Linked DNA regions of Homo sapiens: region 1 is linked to region 2. The links come from fine-mapping of genetic effects on gene expression. A gene starts in region 2. The other region holds a variant in brackets. All regions are shown on one strand. Distances are between the middles of the regions. Region 1 holds the start of MS4A1 (membrane spanning 4-domains A1). Region 2 holds the start of MS4A14 (membrane spanning 4-domains A14).

Region 1 (5,388 bases), 58 kb after region 2:
GAAGGCCGCGGGGTCCTCTGCCTAGGAAAACCAGAGACCTTTGTTCACTTGTTTATCTGCTGACCTTCCCTCCACTATTGTCCTATGACCCTGCCAAATCCCCCTCTGTGAGAAACACCCAAGAATTATCAATAAAAAATAAATAAATTAAAAAAAAAAAGAAAACACAAAAACTAAGCAATATGTCCGTGTGAAATGTAAGCATATGTGGAAAGTCAAAATACAATGAAAAGGAAGAGAGTGATAAACACCAAATTCAGCATAATTGTGAGCTCTGATAAAGAGGGTGGCTTGGGGAAGGATAACCTGAGAGCTTTCAAAGGTATCAGTGACACTCTTGTATCTCTAATCATGGCTGTGGGCACATGGTTTCTTGTCTCACTGTTATAAGTACTTTTTCATACATATTATTTAATTTTTTGAGAAATATAATTGAGAAAGCAAAACAACATCTTATTTTCATTAAATTTTTTATCACATAATGATATTTTTATAGTCAACACCTGCAGAAAAATGTTACCGTTACATATCAGTAACACTTCATCTCCAATGATAGCATATTTATTGGTACATAAGAGAAAAAACTCTTTTCAATAACTATGAGGTCATAATTGCATTTTTTTCTTCAGCTATATTCCCACGTCACAAAAGCAAAGGGAGTGATCCAGTAATCTGCACATGGGAGTACATCAGACATTTTTATATCTTAAAACGAATAATAATAAATGTTTTGCCATTTAAAGCTGTGTCACTTGAACAAATTAATCTTTGCGGGCTTAAAATTTTTAGACTAGAATGCAATAATAGTAATACCTACCTAATGGGTTTACTGTGAACCTTAAATGAAACATGGAAAGTGAGTTTATCAGTGCCTGGAACTTAAAAATCACTTAGTAAATGCTAGTTTTTGAAATTTATAATTGAGATTTTCTTGCTCTAAACATCACTTATTTTACCATTTACCAGCTTTCCAACTTGGGAATGGCTTCCTCCATTTCCTGAAATTTAGTTTCCACAATTATAAAACAGAATCAATATTATATGTGTGGTAAGGCTTATATGTGGACAATTCTTGACATAAAAGGAATTATTTAACTAATATTACCTTCCTAGCTGTTCCAAATGTATAGTCCCTTAGAAGAGAAAGAAGACCCTATCAACTATAAAGTTCTTAAGTATTTCAATTTACATTTTCCTTACTATGAATTATTTATAAGTGCAACAATGGGATTTTCTGACCTGTAACCAAGTTCTATTTGCAATTAGATCTTTAGCCTCACCTCTGACGAGCCCTATGTCTCCCTTACCAATTCTTTGACACCAGAACCCTCCAACAGCAGATAATTCTGGGTGCCAGGGCCTTGCTGAGAAGTTGAGAACGTGGCATAATGTTACTTCCTAATATTGGAGAGCCTGGGGACAATCACCTGGGTGAAAGAAAAAGCCAAACAGAACCATTCCTTCTCAGCACTGCCAGGGACACAGCAATCACAAAAACTGACCCTGCCTTCAAGGGACAAGGAGACAATGGCTGATTAAGGCAAGGACACAAATAATTATGATGTAGCACACAGTTTTCATATAGAAGGCAATGATTAAAAAAATTGGAGTGCTGGGACGTGCAGAGAATAAAAAGGAAATTCACATCAGGAAAATACTAACTAAATAAAAGTTGGCATACTTTTATGTAGACTTTAAGATTGTCTTTTGGAAGCAAGGTCACTAGATAATGAAAATAGGCTTAATTCAAAGAGAAATATTTTAAATATGTTATCAACCTAATAAAATATTCTCAAACCTTGGGGGAAGAGTGATGGTGATACATCAAATAAGATGCTATTGACAAGTCCAAATTGTAGTGAGAATTTCAACACACTCAAGCACTAAAATGTTGATCATTCAAATGAGCAAAGACAAGGTAAATGTTTATGCATTCATACAAATTCAAATTCAAGTTTATTTGGGAAGAATCATACATAGAGCCACCTAAGTTATCTCATTGGCCACAAAGTAGCAAACAACCTGAGACTGACTGGGGAAATACAG[G/A]GCTCAAACAGAGAAAAGGATGCAAAAGACCAGGTTGTGCTGCCACAACTCAAGCCCCTTTGCTGCCATACATTTGCCAAGTCCTGACCCTGTTCCCATGCCAACTAAAATGAAGGCACATGCCTCTAACCACCCCACCATCCAGGACTCAAACCTCAGGTTTCACAATCATCCACAACTCAGACCCTAGGTAATTGTCCTCCCATCACCAATCACTCAAGCATTTCAGCAGATATGCATAGACCCTCAATTAGAATGTTAAATGGATGATGGATCTTCTGTTCCCACTCTCCTTCACTCTACAGCATCTCTGAGAGGTGACTGCATGACTTTACTTGAGTATTCTTGAAGAAGTAAATTCTCTATTGAAATGGTAGCCAGTTCCCCTAATGAACGGCTCCAACAATTTTTTTTTTTAGAGTGGCATCTTTTTAAATATCACACCACAATCAGCCTCCCCAGAACTACTTCTACCCAGTGGATCTAACCCTATGGTTCCAAACTATCTTAAATTTAAAAAGAGAGGCAGAAAGAGAAAGAGAGAAGAGATGAAAGAGAGAGACAGGAATGAACCTCGAATTAGGCAACAGAGCTGCCTGCCATATTTCATCCCTTTAGATTAAATAAACAAATAATTACCTAACTATAGCTCTGTGTCTCTAATAAAATGAAGCAATGAACAGGGAAATAAAAATGTAATTAAAAATCCCACATATGAACATAAAAGTTGAATATTGTAGGGGGAGAGAGAGGACATTATCTTTGGGCAAAACTTTGATTCACATCCCAAATATTTAGACTCTCCTGACACTACCAACTTCTTCCATTTCCCTACTTGATCTAGTACTGTGCTTGATGACCCTGCAGCTCCAGACTAGACTAAAAAGAGAGGGGACACAAGGGAACTTGACAGACAGAAGAAAAAGGTGGGTTCAGAGGTAAAAGTGCTATTTCAATTTATATTTCCAAATATGGAGGCTAATTCTTGCTTTGAGTGGCTGGGTACATGTACTATGGCACTAAAGTATAATTTTAGGCCATTTCTGCTAAATCTGACACAAGATATATACATGGTTCATAAGAAACTTAAGTGTGAGCCAATGAGGACAATATTTGGGGACCCCTAAGTATAGTGCTGCCAAGTGTACAGCCTCAGTGATTCTTGAATCTCTGCATGGATGCCTCCTGCCCACCTACTCAGCCCTAAAAGTGAAGCCAGAAGGTAAAAGTCAGTGCTAACGGCCCATCTTTGACCAACTTCTAGAATCTTTCTTGTCCTCAGGGACCTACCATCCACACCTGCTTATAGGGTGGGGGCTGCAGAAGTTCTTCTAATTAAGGTAGCATGAGCATGCCAGGCAGTCCCCTGGGGTCTTTTTCAAGAAGTGAAACCTGGTAAGGCAGAAACTTTTTTTGCACCTCCTTCAGCTATGGTAAGTGTTAAACCAAAGTAATTGGAGCGAAGCCCAAGGTAGCAGAAGCTACTGATTTCCTGTCACCTGATGTCTATCAGCGATTTCATCTTCAGGCCTGGACTACACCACTCACCCTCCCAGTGTGCTTGAGAAACAAACTGCACCCACTGAACTCCGCAGCTAGCATCCAAATCAGCCCTTGAGATTTGAGGCCTTGGAGACTCAGGTAAGGAATCAATTTGCTTTCTTTAAATGACTTAAAGGAGGTGATGGATAAGGTATAGAATGGTTTTGAAGACTGGAGGTTCTTGATCTTAATTCTAGAGTTTCCCTAGTCAGACTTCCTAATAGTTCTATGACTTAAGGAGGGGTGACGATATCAAGGCTTGCTGCCCACTCACTCCTCTAATCAGTCTCCCTCTCAACAATTACCCTATGCAGTCAACTGTGAATCATTCCACAAAAGTAGTAGATTGCAGCATATATATTAAATCATGGTTTCTAAACCATTGGGTTCAAACTGGAGCTCTACCACTAACAAACAATATAACCTTGGGCAAATTACTAAACCTCTAAAGCCTCAGCTTCCTCATCTATAAAATGGGGGCAATGGTACCCATTACATTAGGAAAATTGGAACTAAAATCCTGAATCCCTTAGGACTTCCCAATACCAAATGAGAAAATAATCAGTCATAGGCATAATGAAAAAAACTCCATTTGTCTTCCTGTAAATGCTTTTGTCTACATTAAATGTAAATATACCTAGAAGTATAGGTGGCTTTACAGGCTAACATTTTCTGGAGGGGATTTGTGGACACCAAGTTGAGCATGAAATCCTGCCTCAAATCTATCACATGGGAAACCAAGAGTAAGAGGGGGCGCTGCAGATGTGGGGGAGCTCTAATGAAGGAAAACAAGGATTAATTTTAATCATGCCATTACTGTTTTCTGAATCCAGTATATAAGTGATTCCCTTTCCCTGTTTCCCATAAAATGGCTTAATCTCACTGAGAATCCGGTGGAAAGAAATGTTTAATCCAGCATTGTGAGCATTTTTGTGTGTGTGTTTTGTTTGTTTGTTCATTTTTTAGTGGAGACAAGGTTTCTCCATGTTGGCCAGGCTGGTCTCGAGCTCCCGACCTCAGGGGATCCACCTGCCTCGGCTTCCCAAAGTGCTGGGATTACAGGTGTGAGCCACTGCACCTGGCCATTGTGAGCACTTGTTAAGCTTCCCTGAGGAAGTAGCTGAGTTTGATGTTCAGCTTAATGTAACTGAGCTCATAGTACATAGAAAACAGGTTCCCTATGCAAGTCTAGTAGGATACAGGATTCTCCGAAGAAAGTAGTTGATGTCTAGTAAGGAAAGCAAAGAGCTAGGAGCTCTGAAGAATTCCTTGCAATCAGGCAAGGAGAGCAGGAACGCCCTCAGGTGATGTGCATATCTAATGCAGAGTTTGATTGAAAGTAAAGAGGGAGGGAGAAGGAACACTTCAAAGTTGAGAAGATTCAGGAAAGAAGGTAGAGGACATGTATAGACCAGTGGCTCTGGTGGCGGTAGTGGGATATGAGCTTGGGAAGTCATACAGGGCTGAATTCCAAAGGCCTTGAGGGGTTAGATGAAGGGTTTCTCCAGCAGGTAATGACAGGCCAGCAAAGGAGTTCAGGCTCAGGAAGAGCATCACTCAAAACAGTGATCGGGAGCTTGATGTAGCAGCCTTGTGGACAATGGATTAGAAAAGAGAAAGACTGAAGGCAGAAAAGCATGAATGGAAATGAGAAACTCACAGGTGACTCTGGATATAGAAAAAAGACCCACATGCAAAATGTATTGCAGAGGTAGAAATGGCATGACTTGGCCACTGACTGACCAACAGCCAAGATGAAGATGGACTGAGAGATGATGGAGCTAAAGTGAAATGTGGTCC
Region 2 (5,388 bases):
ACAAGATCATATCCAACAGGTCAAAAAGAGTTCTTCACGGTCTTGGATATAAGTAACTCTTGGCCTCAGAGGAAGGAAAAGCAACTCAACACTCATGGTCAAGTGTGATTAGACTTTCCTGAAATCTCTGCCATTTTAGATACTGTGAAACAAACTAAAAAAAAAAAAGCTTTTGTTTTGTATTTGTTTACTATGAGTCGTTATTTAATTTCTCTTGAAAATAATTTCCTCAAAGCCCAAGTCAATAAATGTTATCAGCCAGTCTTCCAAAATGGTCATAAACTTTATAAACTGCTTTGGGTAAACTGAGCAGAAGGTGATACACAGAAGGGAAAATGTGCACTCATGCTAGTGTGAATTTGGTAAGTTGCGTGACTCTGCAGGCTGTTTCTGTATTATTTTCACACTCATATTGCTTAAATATTACATATTAGGGATTGTAAGAAAACTTTAATTAAAAATTAAAGACTATATATAATTAAACTACTCTGCCCTGGACACTCTCTGAGAAACAGATCTACTGGGCCCTTTTTCATGAGCCATTAGGTGGAAGACAGCAAAGAGATCTTCTCAAGTGCTTAGGATTACCTCTCAACACACAGCAAGCATGTCCCTGCCTCCCATGAATCTTACCATGTAAATCCAAATCTCTGCAATCCTGTGGCACCAACCAGTGGTGCTCATTCTATTGTTTAAAAATGGCCTTCTTGGCTGGGCGCGGTGGCTCACTCCTGTAATCCCAGCACTTTGGTAGGCCGAGGTGGACGGATCACCCGAGGTCAGGAGTTTGAGACCAGCCTGGCCAACAAGGTGAAACCCTGTCTCTACTAAAAATACAAAAAATTAGCCAGGCATGGTGGTGCGCACCTGTAGTTCCAGCTACTTGGGAGGCTGAGGCAGAAGAATCACTTGAACCCGGGAAGGGGAGGTTGCAGTGAGCGGAGACTGCACCACTGCATTCCAGCCCGGCCTACAAGAACAAAACTCCATCTCAAAATAAATAAAAAAATAAATAAAAATAAAAATAGACTATATATAGTCTTTGAATTCATTTATTTTAAATAAATGAATAAAATAAAATAAAAAAGAATATTCAGTCGTTGGCACATAAACTATGTTCTCTTCTGTCATTTCAGGGTAGGAGTCAATGAAGACATCTTAGTCTTAACAAGTTACAGATAATCTCTGACTGGCATGTTTTCTGCTTCTAGCTTGGAGCTAAATGCTGCTCATGCTGAAAAGAATAATGTCTATTTCTTTGTTTGGGTATTAGCTCTATTTTGATCTATAGCACAGTTTTGTAATTCAGATCATCACCCCTGCACTTTGTACCACATGGGCGTATTCTTTCTTCCCAGTCATTGCTGCAATTATCTTGTCTGTTCTTTGTGTAATATGTTCTGTGTGAGCCTCTGCATTAAACTCGATTTCTTGGGCAATTATGGAAATTCCAGTGTGGCTGCAGTTTAACTTTGCACTCTCTATGCATATGAGGTTTCCTAAATAAATGAGGAGTAGCATAGTTTAAAATATATATATCTTATAACTTTCTACAACAAAGAATTATTGAGTCCAAATGTCATCAGTGCTCATTTTGAGATACCCTGCTATCGATGGTCGCTACAAACCAGGAAATACTCAAGTTATTATGTGTATACATTGGTTTTAGTTTTATGAAACAATTTACCTTCATGATCTCATAGTTAAAATTGTAATAAATTTAGGAATATAAAGGATCAATATGGGAAGCAAAATTTCTAAAGGCAGTTTCTGTTGTTTTAATTAGTATTTGTGTAGTTCAAACCAGGAAGGATTTGACTATCATTAGATTTTGCTTAACTTTATGAAAGCTAAAATATTCTCTGTTATAAAGGGGCAACTCCATCTGGTCCTATAGCATCTTTACTACTGATTTTTTTTTGTTTAATTTGAAAATGCAAAGAATTGTTAAATGTTCTTAAATGTTCTCACTACAAAAAAAGAAAAAAGATAACTACGTGAGGTGATGGATATGTTAATTAGCTGGATTGTGGTAATCATTTTGGAATGTATATGTATATCAAAACATGTAGTACACCCTAAATATATATAATTTTTATTTGTCAAATATACCTCAATAAAGATGGAAAAAAATCGAAATTCAAAGTTATCTACTGATTTTTATAATACAGAGAAATATGGTTAAACAGTAAGTTAGAAAATTCATCAAGTAAAAGAAACTCCTTTCAAAGGAGGGCAGAAGCGTGGCTGAGTTTAAAAAACATAGATTTTGGAGACAGGTCAAGTTGAGTTTGCCCCTTCCCTGTCCTGTATGTCTTTGGGTGACATAACCTTGCTGTTCCTCAGTTTCAGTATTGTAGAACTGTTAAAAGAATAAATGTTAGTGCATGTCAACACCTTCTACACAGTTCCCAGAACATAAGGAATATTCCATAAGTTTTAGTTCCTTTATAACTCATGAACATATGTGTAAGGACTTGTTTCGTATATACCATCTATTCTTTGTTTACCATATGTTTGTAAGCAAATTGACAAGAGAGTAAGTCTTCTGGATACAGTACTTTTCACCAGGAAGATGGGGGGCTGAGCATGCTCTAGAATTCTAAAACTCTGTGACTCAACTATGATTCTGAGATTCTACTACTGAGTAGAGTCATCACTAAGGGCTCATCTCTGAGGGCTCCATGTGACTCTGGTGGAGAGGTAGATCATGATTTGGGCGGCAATGTTTGCTCACTCTTTCCCTTACTAGAGTTCTGCCATAGAATCATGGAGTCAACATCCCAGGACAGAAGGGCAACTCACGTCATCACTATAAAACCAAACGAAACTGTATTGACTGCATTTCCCTACAGACCTCATAGCTCTCTGCTGGATTTTCTGAAGGGAGAGCCAAGAGTCTTGGGGGTAAGTCCTCTCCAGTCAATAGGTCTTCCAGAAGGGGAGAAAAGAAGTTTATTTATTCATGTATGTCTGCAGAGATATGCAGAGATTATTTTCAGGGAGGGAGTTAATTCTACTTTTCCCCCTTCACCTTACATGAGAAATTAGTACTGATCTTTGAATCCCAGCAGAGGGGGAAGCAAGAAACTAGTATAACTTTTTAAAATATCTCATTGAGGAAGTGACTTCAGGGTGTGGTGGCACCTCCCTTGAAGCTAAGAAACCATAAGTGGAGAGGTTTGACTTCCCCTTCATGCTCTTAAAGGAATTGGGAGTGCTTCAAAACCCATATTCAAAGCTCCACAGTGAACCAAATGATAAGGCATGCAAAACGTTTTTCATCACAAATGCACCCAGGGGAGAGCTGTATGCACAGCCTCCATCCTTTGTACAACAGCAAAAATCATTACTTGGTGTGCCACAGCCCAGAGATGTGGCCTGGGGACAAAATCTAGACTGCCAGAGAAGTTGCGCCCTGAGAACCACTGCTGCTATTCTTTTCCCTGCAGATTCCTACAAGCTGATAGGCCCACTGGGCTATTCTCATCCCTAGTTGGGTCCATGGATGAAGGGGAGGTGAAATGCAAGCTCATCCCAGGTTCTCCACTCTATGTCATCAAACTTTTTAAATTTTTAGACAACTGGGATGAGCCCCAATTCCAAAAGCCTATACTGAGTGCTGGAAAATGTGGGGGTGGGGGCTGTTAGGATAATAATAGGATACTGGTGAGACAGACGAAAAAACAAATGTAAAGGTGAATAGTTTATAGTCCCTGTGCTCAAGAAGCTTATAATCTGGGGGTAGTCAGACATGTACTCAAATCTGTCTGATATAAGATTAATTGGTAACACCAGGGAAGATAGAAAATAATAAAGAATAAAAGTGAAGGATTTGAACCTGAAGGATCCAGGCAAGCAAAGTGGGAAGGAAACACATTGAACTGAGTCTCTTAACAATCTGAGAATGATTGACAAATGAGAGAGGAAGGCATTTGGATGGAGGGAAAGGTGTGCCATGGAGGCACACCCTGAGGGACGTGGGGTAGCCCACAGGGTCTTGGATACTTGTAACCTCATGTACCCATTTCTCTCCTCACAGGCTACCCAGATCCTGCTTGCTCTAATCATTGTGGGCTTTGGAACTATATTTGCACTTAATTACATCGGTTTCTCCCAAAGACTTCCCCTTGTTGTCCTCACAGGATATCCATTCTGGGGAGCACTTATTGTGAGTACTGTCGATTAGAAGCTTTGGAGAAATTGCTATAAAGATAGATTTGAACTGCTTCACGTCCTAGGGTAATGAATTCCATAAATATGGCCCTCCAGGAGACCAAAAAAGGCAGCTCCCTTCACGGCAAAAGAAGCAACTCCATTTGGTCACTGCACTACCATCATCATTGTAATAACTACTCTCAGGTGCTTAAAATTTGTTTCCAAAGCCCTTGTGTGTATAGTAAGACATTTGCTCCTCAATACCAACCTGGGAGACTAGATGCACAAATATCCTACTTATTCCTTTGCAAATAAGGAAACTGAGCTCAAAAGTAGAGAATAACTTAAACATATCTAGCCTAGCTAGCACTCATGGAATCACAGACTCTGAAAGCTTAAAAAGAATTTTAAAATTATTATCACTCATCCTCCTTCTTAGCCCCAGAGACAACTTTATGAGTGGCACTCATCTAGATAATCATATAGCCATAAATATTATTCTTAATACAGTGCTATTTCTATCCAATCCCCACAGCCTGGATTCCTAATTTTGTGCCATAATATTTAAGGACAGACTCATTAGAGCTTCTCCTACTATAACATACACTCCTGAGAAGACAGCAGTGTTACTGTCTGTTTTAGTTGTTATATTCTGAGAACCTAGAATCATGCTTGAGGCATAGTGTGCATGAACGAACGAATGAATCAATCAATCAATCAATCAACAAATAGGTGAAATAATTAATAAATTAGGCCACTATCTCTGACTATTAAAAATCCACAGTCTCTTTTGATAAACAGAAATACTCCATGCCTTTTCTATAATGTGCATTTCAGAAACAACCAGCAGTGTTTTCATTTTCCCAATATAAATAATGTAATATTCAATATGATTTTCAAACTATACATGCCATACTGTAGAAAATCAAACAGACCAACCCCTCACTTTCTCATTTCACAACAGAATTGTCCCAGTGTGACTTTGTGTACTCTGCATGTGTGAATTAAAATGAGATTCTGGCATGCTGCTTTTGAAAACTCTACTTTTCACTTAAAAGATATTTACTGAGCACATACCGCGTCTTCAATGGCATCCTAGGTGCTGAGACTGAGAATACTGGAAAACAGCTCCTCTCTGAGAGAAGTGGTGAATTGTTCTTAGATTTAGACAGTTTGTCATCTAACTGGGAGACTAGACATGAAAAAGTCAAAAGTAACCCCAAATATTTG

Evidence for each region. PIP is the estimated chance that this variant, and not a neighbour inherited with it, causes the effect.
Region 1: its variant is the best candidate, but not a certain one, in a credible set for the expression of MS4A14 in whole blood (TOPMed, PIP 0.66).

The regions. Positions count from the first base shown.
Region 1 is chr11:60,452,259-60,457,646 of GRCh38, forward strand. MS4A1 (membrane spanning 4-domains A1) reads left to right here and starts at 3,589. Exons shown (of 8, transcript NM_152866.3): 1 at 3,589-3,687. The variant G/A (reference allele first, on the strand shown) is at 2,047.
Region 2 is chr11:60,393,810-60,399,197 of GRCh38, forward strand. It overlaps MS4A14 (membrane spanning 4-domains A14), which reads left to right and starts at 2,650. Exons shown (of 5, transcript NM_032597.5): 1 at 2,650-2,907; 2 at 4,043-4,171. The coding sequence starts at 2,770. It overlaps MS4A7 (membrane spanning 4-domains A7), which reads left to right. Exons shown (of 7, transcript NM_021201.5): 7 at 1-2,139. The coding sequence ends at 52.